Linked DNA regions of Homo sapiens. The protein of the gene in region 1 purifies or fractionates together with the protein of each later gene. This does not show direct contact. Each region holds a gene or a part of one and is shown on either strand. Other genes may lie near its edges.

Region 1 (4,283 bases):
AAGCACTTGGGTCATTTTGAAATGTTTTTATATCCAACCCTTAATCAGTGGGATGATTTTCTTTTCAGCTTTGCAATCAGCTTGACCTGTGGGGACTCAGAAGACCCTCCTGCCGATGTGGCAATCGAACTCAAAGCTGTGTTCACAGATCGGCAGCTACTCAGAAATTCTTGTATATCTGGGGAGAGGGGTGAAGAACAGTCAGCAATCCCTTACTTTCCATTCATTCCAGACCAGCCATTCAGGGTGAGTACCTCGAGTGCCTCGGCTCCAGCCACTGGCAGGCTGATAATGTTCGACTTACCTAGTGTGTGCCAAGAACACTTGAAGCAGCCAGAATTTCTGCATGTCCAGGAAATTTGTCACCCAATGGTGAAAAAAAAAGATCAAAAGAGCTCTGTTTGCTGATATAAATTAACACTTGCCATAGTATCTTCTTAGTTCTATTCAGGTCATACATTTAAATAGACCCATATTTACATGTCCAAATTGTTAAGAATAAGTAACTTTTCTATGTAGTACCCAACATATAGTAGATACCTACCCCCAAATATCTGATTGATTAATCAATACTAAGTACCCACTTATTAAATATTAATATTAATAAGGTTGAGAGCTAATAAGTAGCTCTTTTATTTGTATGACATTTTAAAGAATATGATGATGATCATTTCATTTTCTCTTGTTCCCTTTGCTAATGAGGCCATGTTCGTGTCCTTGTTTCCCCCTCTGGATTAATTAGCCTCAGTCTATTTCATGGTTACAGGCTGTGTGGCTGACAAATTCCTTCCCTTGGGGCTGGATGAATAAAGATTTGCTCCCCACTATCTTCTGGGCAGGAAGCACAATCCAAACTTTTCATCCAATCAAGCAGCATTAGCAGCCCCTTCCTCTATGAAAGGCAATGCCAAATAAGAGATGCAGGTAGTGGCACAGTGGCTTGTGCCTATAATCCCACCACTTTGGGAGGCTGAGGCAAGAGGATTGCTTGAGCAAAGGAGTTCAAGACCAGCCTAGGAAACACAGCAAAAACCCTGCCTTTAAAAAAAAAAAAATTAGCCTGCCATGGTGTCACACACCTGTAGTCCTAGCTACTTGGGAGGCTGAGACGGGAGGATTGCTTGAGCCCAGGAATTCAAGGCTGCAGTGAGCTATGTGTGCATCACTGCACTCCAGCCTGGGTGACAGAGCAAGGCTCTGTCAAAAAAAAAAAAAATAAAGGGAAATGCAAGTAGTAATGGTGTTAAAAAGGGGTCAGACCTAGTGATGAATTGTCATTACACCTTAACATTACATCACAATAATGACAACTCAGTTAAAAGCTCCATGTTACATGTGAGCCCAATAAAACACAACTACACTTAACTGGTTACCCTTCATCTAGAAATTTTCAAGTGCCTCATGAAGAAGTAATTCTTTCACTTCTCTTCTTACATTCTGGGGAAAATAAGAATCCATGATTTTTGCATTGGTGGTAGAATTGAGATAGTTGCACTTCTAGTTATAGTCTCTGGAAGGCACCCTTGACCCATTATCTCTCCTCATCCCCTTCTCTAGAATGGTGATGTCCCCTTGGGCTCCTCTTGGCTAGGATAGTTTCTTAGTGATGAACCTTAATGCATAGCTCATGAATGTGAGTAACCACAGCTTCTGACTGCCAGGAGGAATATAATGCTCCCAACAGCAAAACTGAAGTGAAATAGGCCCTTCTTGGTGATAAAATTTAGTAATATAAAATAAATGTGACTAGTATCACATATGGAGCCTCCTTACATGGTGAATGCCAATGCTTTTAATAAACCCATCATAGCACACTACCAGTAATTGAACTTTATGGTAAATTACTTGAGGAAAAAGCTTTTACACTTACATTCTACACAGGAATCAGAAATTTTGGAGGTAGAGCCCAACAATCTGTGTTCTAACAAGCCCTCTGCAGGTCTCAATGCATTCTGATGTTTGTGAACCACTGAAGATACTGCCTTTCTTTCTCTAAAATGAAGTATTGTTTGTTTTCCCCAGTAGCGTTCATTGAAATTGTGGATTATTATTTTGTTTCTTCCAGGTGGAAATTCTTTGTGAGCACCCACGTTTCCGAGTGTTTGTGGATGGACACCAACTTTTTGATTTTTACCATCGCATTCAAACGTTATCTGCAATTGACACCATAAAGATAAATGGAGACCTCCAGATCACCAAGCTTGGCTGATTTAAACCACCTCTATTTCAAATAGGATCACGTGCCACAACTATCTGACTGTTGGTCTGGAAGAAGTGTCCTAGCAAGATCTGGAGACTTAAAAAGAAAACAAAAACAAATGGCAAGTTTCACTTAAGGGTGGTTTGCCCTTAAGAAGAAAGCTGTTGGGACAAAGACACCGAGCCATTATACCCAGAATAAAATAATACATTTATGCTGGATTTTATTCAGACCAAACTAAAATGGATTTGTGATGATTTGTGATTTGGTAGCAAATTATTCATCTTTTCAAAGCAAGGCAATGCTTAGAAACAGAAGTGCTAAAGACACTTAAAAAGCCAACAACAACGGTACAGTGAAATCAATGCATTTCTGCACTAAAGTGGAATTGTGTAGCACAACCAATATTTTAGTCAGGGTATTTACATAGAATGTAGGTTGTTCAAGGTTTGACTTTTTTTTTGTTTTTTGTTTTTGTTTTTGTTTTTGTTTTGCACAGCATAATGTTAATTCAGATTGTTGAAGCTTTCTTGTAGTTATTTATTTATACTCAATGTATGTATTAAAGAATGAACAATGTCTCAAGAACAGCAAGTTGTAAACTTTTGAATGTATAAATATCTTAGGTCCAAGGGGAGAAAATTACATATTACAATTATGAAACAGGTGAATTTCTGCTTTAAAGAATTGAGATTCTCCATACCCCTAAACTTAGGATCTCTTGATATAAACTGCTGTAAGTGCTTTTGGGAAACCTTTGCAAAACCATTTTGATAAAACTGCTTTCCAAGTTATTGTTGGTTATGTAAAATTCTATTTACATTGCTTTTTCTCCTTACTGGGAATTAGCACATTATTGGCTTCCTTAAGACTAATTATTTCTCTCTTGATTTATATAATAGCTCATTAAGTTGTTATTAATCAAAAACACAAAGAGGTGATTGCTTAGACAATTTTTAAAGTGACTATAGTATAAACTTTTAAAAGAATAATATGAAAATGACTGTGGAATGCAGTGTAAAGCAGAAGCAAACGGCCCTGAATAACTTACTTGGAAGTAATTTATATCAACTTAAGCTGTTAGCTCATTGTATAACTTTTCTTATGTGACCCTCACCAATATCCCTAAGTAATGCCTTTGGAAGCTTCAGAGTAGAAGATGCTTCCTACTGTGTTGGCTCTGAGGAGATAGTAGGATTAGATAGGATCCAGATTAGGAAATGATCCAGTTAGTTTATCTGAAAGGTTAACTCCCAGGACTCCAGGTCTTTGAATCCAGCCAGTAGAGTGAATGCTTCCAATTAAGCTGTAGGTGTTACCCTGCACTTACGGAACTGATCAAACAGGTGACTCCAACAGGAGGTTGCAGTACTGTAAACGTCACCGCAAGGCAAGGGATGCTTAAAGTCCTGGGTTCTGGACTTTAAAAGCTACATTGGCCCTGGAGGGAGGGACCCTTGGCATTGCTTTGATCAGGTAGTGAGGGAAGACAGGGTTCTGGGGTGGGGGTGTATTTATATATAATTTAGGTTTTGTTTGTACAGCATACTGTGTCTTGTAATGACACATCCTTGTCCTGCTTTCCTTTTTTGAGTTTTTTTTTTTTTTTTACACAACATGCAGAGGCACTGAAGTGACCATGTCATTTTCAAGTGTCAAGAATGTAGACAGTGTTTCAGTACCAAAGTCTAAAATAAACTAAAATTATGAATTTTTTATAGGTGATACATTTGGATTCTTCTCAACTTTGAAACTGTTTAGCACAGTTCCATTGTATTATATAAGAAGACACTGTATCCAACAAGACTGGCTGTACATTGAAAAGCTTTATGTACCAGCCAACTTATTTAACCATATTCAGCCTGTTCCGTGGGGGCTGTTCTGTGGTTCCAGGTATTTTCAAGCCTGTGATTAACTTCTCATGGCTTGTCACTTAAAAGTCCCTAAATTTGAGAGACTTAAAGGGCACCTTGAAATACATTTGTGGAGTTTTGATCCAACTTATGGTGGAAGAGCCCCATAGGAAGACTGTTTTGAGTGGCCAACCATTCCCACCCACTGCATAATTCAGCAGAAACTAGAG
Region 2 (5,423 bases), on another chromosome or scaffold:
AATTTACCTGCCTTGGCCTCCCTAAGTGCTGGGATTACAGGTATGAGCCACTGGGCCTGGCATGCAAATATTTTTCCTGGCTCTTCATTTACCTAACAGTGTTGTCTTTTCTCTTGCTCTCTCTCTCTCCCCCTTTTTTTTTTTTTTTTTTTTAACAAAACAAAAAAACAGGCAAGGGTTTTTACTTTTTAAGAAAATTAGGTTAATACTTTCTTTTATGGCTTCTACTTTGCTTTTATATTTAAAGGCTTCTCCTACCCAGTTAAGTTTTCTTCTAGTTCTTTTACGGTTTCATATTTCACATCTGTCTTTTTCTGTTCATCTGGGATTTATTTTGACATATGTGAAGTGAAATAACCTCCCTTATTTTTCCTTAAAAATTTTGGCCCCACTAAAAAAAAAAACAACTTGTTGCCTTGAAATAAAGCTGCCTTTATCATATGTTAAATGCACATCTTCTTGGTTCTTTTTAGGTTTTATTGAAATATCAATGATTTGGTACCAGTGTACACTTGTATACATGGGGCATGGTATTTTCATTTTGTAAACAAGTGTGTTTCTGTTATTGTTTAAGTCTCCCCCCCATCCCCCTTTTTTGGTTGTTGCTTTGTTAGTCCTCAGATTTTTTAGTTTATTCTTTTGGGGCTTCAAATTAGTTTTGGTTTTGATTTTTTTTTTTTTTTTTTTTTTTTTGGAGACAGAGTCTTACTCTGTTGCCCAGGCTGGAGTGTGATGGCATGATCTTGGCTCACTGCAGCCTTTGTCTCCAGGTTCAAGTGATTCTCATGCCTCAGCCTTCTGAGTAGTTGGGATTACAGGGGTGTGCCACCACACCTGGCTAATTTTTGTGTTTTTAGTAGAGATAGGGTTTCATCGTGTTGGCCAAGCTGGTCTCGAACCCCTGACCTCAGGTGATCTACCCACCTCGGCCTCCCAAAGTGCTGGGATTACAGGCGTGACCCACTGTGCCTGGCCAGTTTTGAATTTTTTAACTTAAAAAAATTGCAACTTTTATAATATTTTATGTTTTATAATGAAAAAATGTAATCCTATTGAATGTTCCTCTGAGCATAGCTTTAGCTATATTACTTAAATTTTGATGAGTAATATTTTTATGTTTATATATTTAAAAACCCCTGCAGTTGCAGTTTTTATTTTTTCAACAAGTATTTAAGCACCTGCTCCATCTAGACATTCTGCCAAGTGCTGAGGACACAACTATGTACAAGACAAGGTCTCTTGCCTTCATCCAGTTACAGTCTGTCAATATAGACAAACCAACGAATAAAGAATTTTCAGATTTCGACAAGTGTCTAGGAAGTAAATAAATAATAGAAGGTGCTAATTGGATGATCTGAGACTGTCTCTCTGAGGATGTCATGTTTAAGTTGATTGGTGGTACCAAGGTGTGTATGGGAGTTTCTTTAGCTTTCCCAATCTATCGAAACATAAAAAAAAAAAAAAACGGAGTCTCACTCTGTTGCCCAGGCTGGAGTGCAGTGGTGTGGTCTTGGCTCGCTGCAACCTCTGCCTCCTGGGTTCAAGCAATTCTCCTGCCTCAGCCTCCTGAGTAGCTGAGATTACAGGCATGCGCCACCATGCCCAGCTAATTTTTGTATTTTTAGTAGAGATGGGGTTTCACCACGGTGGCCAGGCTGGTCACAAATTCCTGACCTCAGGTGATCCACCCGCCTCAGCCTCCCAAAGTGCTGGGATTACAGGCGTGAGCCACCACGCCCAGCCGAAATGACTAAGTTTTTTTGGGAAAATATTTTGTGAAAATTGCTTTGCAGGCCTGGCTGAGATCACTTGATGTCAAGAGTTCAAGACCAGCCTGGCCAACGTGGCGAAACCTCATCTCTGTTGAAAATACCAAAATTAGCTGGGCGTGGTGGCCGGTAGCTGTAATCCCAGCTACTCGGGAGGCTGAGGCAGGAGAATCACTTGAAACTTAGAGGCGGAGGTTGCAGTGAGCCGAGACTGCACCACTACACTCTAGCCTGGGCGACACAGTGAGACTCCATCTCCCAAAAAAAAAAAAAAAAAATTGCAAACAGTTTGAAGCCTCTTCCCCATCTTCCAGCTGGATTGCTGCTCCAAAGCTTGTCCTGTGTAGAAAATTTGGAACTTTGATTCTGAGTTCTAAAATCAAGAAGTTGAAGGTAGTTTCCCATGTGAAGAGAACTGCTGGCACAAATGGTACATATGCAAAGTGCTTGACTTGACTTTGAATTTGACAGAAGATTAGAATGACTGGTGTTTACTGAGGGAGGACAGTGGGACAAGCTTTGTTTCAGGACTTGTTTGGGAGACTTTTATTTTTTATTTCCAAATGGTAGGGCTGCTTCCACCCCTCCTGCCTTCCTATGGAGTTTTGATTTTGTAATCCAAATCAGTCTCCTACAAATAGCATATATTATTTTACCTCTTGTTACTTTTCTTCATTATTTCTACTGTTTTCAGTTTTCTCTACTCAAGACCTTTGCATATGCTTTTGTTTTGCTTAGTTGTGATTTCCTTGAGGAATCCTTCCTTGATGCCACAAAATAGGTTAGGTCTTTCTCTTGGCTTCATGGGCTCATTTTATATTGGGCTTTTCTTTCATAAACATTTGTAACAACTCCAGTTCATTAAGTTTGTGTGAATTGTTTTAGCATCTATTTCTTCTTCCAGAACCATAGTCTGGTAGCTACCATCCACTTGTGGCTATTTAAATAAATTTAAATTTAATTTAATATTAAAAATTCAGTTCCTCATTTGTATTAGTCACATTCTAGGTGCTCACTCAGTGGCCTTATGTGGCTAGTGGCGATTGTGTTGGACAGCAGAGAGACAGTCTTCTGCAATAATAGATACTTATCTTAATTTATAGTCCTGTGGCTAATGGCTACCATATTTTATTTAAATAGTCACATCTGACTATTGAGATATGGCAAGTCTGAACTGATGTATTAAGTTTGAAATAGGAACTTGATTTCTAGTACCAAACAATGAAAATATCTCAATTTTTAAAATATTACATATTGAAGTAGTGATATTTTACATGTATTGTGTTAAAATATACTATTACTGTTAATTTTATTTCTTAATTAAAAAAATTTTTTTTTCTTGAGACGGAATCTTACTCTGTTGCCCAGGCTGGAGTGCAGTGGCACAATCTCGGCTCACTGCAACCTCTGCCTCCTGGGTTCAAGTGATTCTCCTGCCTCTGCTTCCCAAGTAGCTGGGACTACAGGCGAGCACCACCGCGCCTGGCCTGTTTTTTTTTTTTTTGTTTGTTTGTTTGTTTGTTTTTGAGACATGGTGTTGCCTTTGTCGCCCAGGATGGAGTGCAGTGATGTGATGTTGGCTCACTGTAGTCTCAACCTCCCTGGCTCAAGGGATCCTCCCACCTCAGCCTCCTAAGTAGCTGGGACTACAGGCGCGCCACCATGCCTGTATAATTTTTAAAAATTTTTAAAATTTTTTGTAGAGATGGGGTTTCACTGTGTTGCCCAGGCTGGTCTTGAACTTTTTTTTTGAGATGGAGTCTCGCTCTGTTGCCCAGGCTGGAGTACAGTGGCACGATCTCGGCTAACTGCAGCCTCCAGCCCCCGGGTTCAAGTGATTCTCCTGCCTCAGCCTCCGGAGTAGCTGGGATTACAGGCGAGTGCCACCACGCCTGGCTAATTTTTGTATTTTAAGTAGAGACTGGGTTTCGCCATATTGGCCAGGCTGGTCTCGAACACCTGACCTCAGGTGATCCGCCCACTGTGGCCTCCCAAAGTGCTGGGATTATAGGCGTGAGCTACCGCGCTCAGCCGGTCTTGAACTTTAGAGCTCAAGTAATCTGTCTGCCTTGGCCTCTGAAAGTCTTGGGATTACAGGCGTGAGCCACCGTGCCCAGCCAATTTTTAAATTTCAATGTGACTACTAGGAAATAGAAAACCACATGTGGCTCTCATTATGTTTCTGTGAGACAGCACTGGTCTGACTCGACCATAAGTTTGTACAGTGGTAGGGACTATATCCATTTTATTTACTGTGGTATCTTCAGCGCATAACAGACGTTCAAAAGATTTGGTGAATGAATAAACTAACTCTGTTAACTTTTGAATGTTATTGCATAGTTTACAGAGAATGTTACCTATTCAGCTTTTGCTTTTCAGAATTGTTTTCTTTGTGACTGATTAAAATGGTTGAGAAAAGCTCTTTCAGTAACTATATAAAGAATGAGTCTTCGTCTTTTATGTAATATTTTATTTATTTTTTTCTGGTTTAGGCCTCCAAGGAGAGAGAGAATTTAAAGTTGGCCAGTCTATTTTCTCTTAGTTTTTCTATGTCTAGCACTTTTTCTTAGATGATCTATGATATGTTGTTTGGCACATGAAAATTTATGACTTAAAATCTTAATAGTTGAGTATTATAAATGCCTTCTCTTTTATTTTTGTCTCACTATTGTGATCCCTGTTTCTTTTTATTTTGCATTAATCAGTGACCTTGTTTATCCCTTGAGACCTAAAACAAAGCAATGTACTGTTTTTTTGTAGAAAGATACCTTATCCTATCGGCTTGGTTTATGCTTGCTTATTTGTATGTTTCCTTAATGTTTCCTTTGTGTTCAGTGTTTGACCTCATATGCCATTCATTCAAACTCCCCAACTCCTCATACACACCTTGTAATCTTTTCCCTAAGGAGTCAGGAGAGATACACCAGGAATTGCAGGCTCAAATATATCTTACTTTTGCCAGGGAAATATTTTTTTTATTTTTTGTTATTTATTTATTTATTTATTTATTTAGAGACAGAGTCTTACTCTATAGCCCAGGCTGGAGTGCAATGTCTGCTGCCCGGGTTCAAGCAATCCTCCTGCCTCAGTCTCCCAAGTAGCTGGGATTACAGGCACCTGCCACTGCACGAGGCTAATTTTTGTAGTTCTAGTAGAGACGGGGTTTCACCATCTTGGCCAGGCTGGTCTTGAACTCCTGACCTTGTGATCCACCTGCCTCTGCCTCCGAAAGTGCTGGGATTTACAGGCGTGAGCCACCACACCTGGCCATATTTTTTTATTTTTTATTCCCCATTGAGGTGTTTTTCAGAGTTTATCCTTAGTGATCCCAGTTATGTTTTGCTAATGTCAGGGTGGTCTTTTTATCAACTACTACAATAAACCACCAGTCGTGCCAGAGAAAATGCCCAGGATTAATTTCTTTTGTAGGAAGAGCAGTTTGAACTATATGGAATCCTTCAAAATTCTAAGAAAGTGTTTGCCCTGTTCTGTATATATTCTGCCAAAAGTTGTTCCTAATAGTCTAGATATTGATTCTTTATGTAAGTAGGGTCTTTTTAATCAAAAGTGAAGTGGGACCAAATTGTTCAGTGGCTTGTTCTCTTCTAAATTGTTTTTAGCTGATAAGATTTGGGAAACTTTCTGGGCTTCCAC
Region 3 (5,423 bases), on another chromosome or scaffold:
CTCCTGCCTCAACCTCCTTAGTAGCTGGGATTACAGGCGCTTGCCACCACACCCGGCTAATTTTTGTATTTTTAGTAGAGGCAGGGTTTCACCATGTTGGCCAGGCTGATCCTGACCTCGTGATTCACCCACCTGGGCCTCACAAGGTGCTGGGATAACAGGCGTGAGCCACCATGCCCGGCCTAGGATTCTAAAATTTTTAAAAGGCAGTCATAAAATTATAAGCAACAAATTGTTTGCAAATTATTCAAATTTTCTATGTCTCACAGAGGCACTTCTCCTTTCTTTTTAGCATGATAAATTCATGAAAATGAAACACAGATGGTAATGGATAATAAACAGCTTTATCCAGTGTTTGTCTGAACAAGACAATAAAAGCTTCATCACAGTACTTAATCACTAGTTCCCACCGTCCCCATATACCCCCTAAACAGTGCAAAACAGGGGAAAAATGTAAAGCACCCACCACTCGATTCTAATTTGGCTTATAATTTGGTTTACTTAATATGAATAAAAAAATCCTGTTCAGATATAAGTAACAGCATATATGTAGCTTGGATTTGGTAATAAGTATTTAATTAATTTTCTAATTTGGGAGTTGGGGGGTTTTGAGAAGGATAGTGAAAGAGGGATTATGAAGGTTTACCATAACTGAAATCAAATAAACAATTGTTTTTGAATGCCAGGATGCCTTTTTTTGAACATCTGTCATGAACAGCTAAATGTTTACAATGGCTATATTGATTAAACTTGAGTTGCTAAAAACATACCTGCAATTGCTTTCCATCTGGTTGTGAAGCAATGTAGTTGACTTGTTGGGATGGTGGGGGAGGGGGTGGTGGTGGTGGTAGTCCCTGAGATACACTGGTAGGAGTGGCTACCTGCATGAGGGGCACTCCTGTGTGGAGATGCAAGGGTAGCTGAGGATGAATGTTAAATGGATTGCGTTGGATGTTCATCAAAGGAGCATGAACACCCACTGGATATGGGAAGATATTCATAGGCTGGTGTTGTGCATTCATTTGTTGCTGCATTACATTCATTTGCGGTTGCATCATATTTATAGGTAGCTGAGAACCATCAACTTGCTGGTTTGTTTGGTCTTTTAGGCTAGAATCTATCAAAAGAAAAAAAGCTTGTGAAAAAAATCATGTTATAAATCTCTTTAGACAGAGAAACAAAGAACCACTGGTTACAGTAAAATTAAATAGCAATTAATAGGCTCAGTATACCAATACCAATCTCCAATTGCTTAATTTAATCCTGTCATTTCTAAATAATGTGGACTGACTTTCTAATGAAAGAAAACATTTGGCGAGGCACGGTGGCTCAAGCCTGTAATCCCAGCACTTTGGGAGGCCAAGGCGGGCAGATCACCTGAGGTCAGGTGTTCGAGAGCAGCCTGGCCAACATGGTGAAACCCCGTCTCTACTAAAAAAATACAAAAATTAGCCAGGCGTGGTGGTGAGCGCCTGTAATCCCAGCTAGTCAGGAGGCTGGAGAATTGCTTGAACCCAGGAGGTGGAGGTTGCAGTGAGCAAAGATCATGCCATTGCACTCCAGCCTGGGCAACAACAGAGAAACTCCATCTCAAAAAACAAAACGAACATTCACCTGAAAATATTTTTAAGAATAAGTTCATGCAAAACATACATCAACAATCAGTAGCTCAAGAAACTGACTAGTTAAAAAAAAAAATCACATAAAATTTAACTACTAAATTATAAGGTTATTCAATTTTTACATCTTCAACAGCCTTTATCTTGCAATGTTCTTAACAAGAAAAAAAACAAGGAAATATAAATCTTTACTATTAAAACAATGGCTTATTTTATTTGTATGAGAACAATTATCAAAAAAATTAAAAGTGTACATATCTGAAATAAACAAATTAGAGGTTAAATCCTGCATAGGAATATCCCAAACTCTTCTATTGTAGCAAACAGTGCTGAAAATATTTAAGTCTTTGGCAAGGTTTGGAGCAGAGGTAGCATTAATAATATACTTATGTAGATAAACGTACGTGTATATATATTTATATAATGCTAAGTGACTTGTAAACAACTAAGGTTCAGCTTATTATAAAAACTACAAATAAGGATCATTTCAACTCATACAAATAACATATTAAATTTATAATTCTTCAAATAAAACAGTATCAATAAACCAACAAGAATACATTACCCTGTCCAGATGTTTCCTCCTCTTGTTTCATCCATCCAGACTGTGGACCTGAAGAATTTCTGCCTCGTCGTGAGTAGTAGTTTTGTACATCTGCTGGCAAAGTCTTTCTCACGGCCCAGCTGGATGCAGATGTCCATCCAGATCTATCTGCTGGTGTATCAAATGAGAACTCCTGTTCACTTTTTCGCTTATAGGATTGCTGTTCCACAAACTTGAAAGATTCACTCCCTGAACTGTTTGAATTCCCTGAGAGGGGTTTTCGATTTTGCCACCGATTTTCATTCTGATCTTTATAGGCAAAACTACTTCTGTAAGTGCCTCTGCCACGGTTGCCTCTGCCTCTACCACGGTTAGATACCCAACCAGAACCAAAGTTTTTATTCCAAGAATTTCCTGAATTTTCATTTCTATTTTCTTCCCAATGAGACTCTTTCAACTTTTCTGGATTTCTGGTTCTTGGATCAGGCCCAGAGTTTATTTTTTCTGTTATCCAATTGGGACAGTCATTTCTATGTTTGTCAGCAGAATTTGGATCATCAGCATCTAGATGGATGTCATTTTTTTCTTTTCTTGTATTTTCATTCTGTTTCTCTGGGTCATTCTTTCTGTACCGATCATTTCCTCGTGGACATCTCCAACCATCATTTGCCCATCTTCCCTTCCACCGGGGAGAGTAACTATCTCTGTCAATTCTACCAAATGATGAACTCTTACTTTTTGTTCTACATCTTGAGGGGGACCTAGAATGAGATCTGGACCTAGACCACTTTCTGGTTCTCCTTTCTCTCTCTCTCCTCTGCCCATCTCTATCACTTTCTCGTTCTCTGCTCTGGGACCTGGATTTTTCTCCTGGGGAAGAATCTTTCACTCTTGGCTGAGATCTTTTGTTCTCTCTAGAAGTTTCTCTTCTTGGGGACAGTGATTCAGATCTTCTGCTTTCCCTAGTAGTATCCCTTTTTGGAGACCGAGACTGAGATTGCCTCCTTTCTCTTGCAATATCCTTTTTTGGGGACTGAGAACGGGATTTTTTCCGGCCTCTGGCTGACTCATTCTTAGGAGATGGTGATTGAGACTTCCTGCTTTCTTTCCCAGTTTCTCTTCTGGGAGATGGAGACTGGGGCCGCTTCTTTTCTTGTGGAGTGTCTTTGTTGGGTGACCAAGTTGTAGATGGAGAATGAAATCTAGATCTTCGAGTACGAGGCTTTTTGGTTTTATCTATGGTATCTTTTGGGCTTTCAGATGGTTGAGAAACAGTTTCAACCTTTTCATCCGCAAGATCAGAAGACGGCATATTATTTTCAGAACAGTGTGTCACAGAATTTTCATTCATTTGTTTAAGATCAGCATTTACAGATGGTTCAACTTCAGATTCATTTTGGTCACTGCAAAATGAATCACACTCCATAGGTATCATTTCATTGTTGTCCTCACTAAAATGCTTCTGAATCTGTTCAATGTGTGTTTTAGGCAACTCTGTAGATCTAGGATGTTCGGTCAGCGATTCATTCTTTTCTTCTAAAGATTTTTCCAATTTGGTGTTCAGAAGATTATTTTTTAGTAAGTTATTTTCAGAGTCTTGAATATTATTGAAATCTTCATTCCCAAAAGTATCACATGTTGCAATTATTTCTACATCTTCAGTTTCAACATGCCCAAGCAATTGAACCTCTGGGCTCTTAACAGATTGTCTGTCCACTGTCTGTATAATTTCACCCTCAGAAGATTCTAACTTGGGGCTCTCTATAAGCTCCTCTGTTTTTAGTGTAAAATCTTTATGTTCAGTAATTTCTACTAGGGAACTCTCTGTTATTTTTTCTTCATTAACCACTGACTCTACATTCTCAGATAAGTCACTTAGGGGACAAGATACAGGTTGGTACACTTTGCTTTCAGATGTTAAACATGTAGGAAAATCATTTGGAAGATGAACTGTACATACATCTGTCTTTACCTCTGATTGTGAAAGTCCAGATATCTGGTCTTGCTTTTCCAATGGATCACCTCCTTTTTCAAGAATATTTTCAGAAATCTCACTTTCCAAACACAAAACATTAGCCTCTATACCTGTATTCTCGAGTTTTTTAACTTCCCCTTCCTCACCAACTAGCACAGGAAGATCTTGAGCACAAGACTCAGAAGATGAAGATCCTACTCTTTCCTCTGTATCATAATTTGCAGTATGCTTCTCACTTTCTTCTATTTGCTCATTGCAACTTTTCAAGCAATTAGCAGACTGGTTTTCTACATGAGTCTGCACAGTACAAATGTTACTACTGTCTACATCTGGTTGGTGCTCTTTTTCTAACACAGGTGATGTGTCAGATTCTGCTGTTTCTTCATCTACTGAATCATTGGAAGATGATTTTTCAGGGGCAGCTACAGAGCTCCGAAGTTTCTTTTTCAGTAAAGGTGGTTTTCTTCCTCTTCTTACAGACTTCCGTTTTGGAGCCTGTCTTGTTTGCTTTTCTGACTCAGCTGAAGAGGGAACACTTAAAGATGGATTACTGTTACCTGGGGCATCACACCCAGAATTGTCTGATATTGGGGATCTCTGAGACTGACTGGCTGTTTCAGCTCTTGTGTTACGTGTAGACCTCCTTGTAGGAGTTGTCATTGCAGGTTTTCGTCTTGATCCTCTGGTATTTGATGTACCAGAAGTTTGCTTCTTTTCTTCCCCTTCTTGAGTATGTGCTAATGCATATCCCTTGCAAGAAGTACCTAATAATATTTAAAAAAAAAAAAAAAGTAAAAAATATGTTTTAAGAAATAGTAATTTGGCTTTAGCTAATTTTAGCATAAAATAGTCTGCAACAGAGTGAAACTAAATACTTATAAATAAAACTATTAATAAATGCATAGCTACTAACATCTGAGTAATATGACTTATTCATCAACTTTCTTAATGACACTGAAATAAGTTATAACTAGATTTGGTCCAAATGGGCAATTTTATAGAGAAAAAAAAAAAGGAAAATAACTTTTGGTCTTGTAACTGCTACTTGCTTAATTTTTTTTTTTTTTGGAGACAGGGTCTCACTCTGTCACCCAGGCTGGAGTGCAATGGCGTGATCACTGGAGCAATCATCGCGCACAGAAGCCTCAACCTCCCAGGCTCAAGCGATCCTCCCACCTCAGCCTCCCAGGTAGCTGGGACTACAGGCATGCACTACCATGCCCAGCTAATTTTTGTATTTTTAATAGAGACAGGGTTTTGCCATGTTGCCCAAGCTGGTCTCAAA

Evidence for each region. Proteins that work in one complex are often made in the same cells at the same time.
Region 2: the proteins of LGALSL (region 1) and ZFAND6 fractionate together in Homo sapiens (co-fractionation; one large-scale study listed by BioGRID). This does not show direct contact.
Region 3: the proteins of LGALSL (region 1) and SCAF11 purify together in Homo sapiens (affinity purification with mass spectrometry; one large-scale study listed by BioGRID and IntAct). This does not show direct contact.

The regions. Positions count from the first base shown.
Region 1 is NC_000002.12:64,456,220-64,460,502, forward strand, and holds part of LGALSL (galectin-related protein), read left to right. Parts: intron 1-68; coding exon 69-246; intron 247-2,065; coding exon 2,066-2,209; 3' UTR 2,210-4,283. UniProt on the Homo sapiens protein: Does not bind lactose, and may not bind carbohydrates.
Region 2 is NC_000015.10:80,064,870-80,070,292, forward strand, and holds part of ZFAND6 (AN1-type zinc finger protein 6), read left to right. Parts: intron 1-5,423. UniProt on the Homo sapiens protein: Involved in regulation of TNF-alpha induced NF-kappa-B activation and apoptosis. Involved in modulation of 'Lys-48'-linked polyubiquitination status of TRAF2 and decreases association of TRAF2 with RIPK1.
Region 3 is NC_000012.12:45,923,958-45,929,380, forward strand, and holds part of SCAF11 (protein SCAF11), read right to left. Parts: intron 4,903-5,423; coding exon 2,185-4,902; intron 1,118-2,184; coding exon 771-1,117; intron 1-770. UniProt on the Homo sapiens protein: Plays a role in pre-mRNA alternative splicing by regulating spliceosome assembly.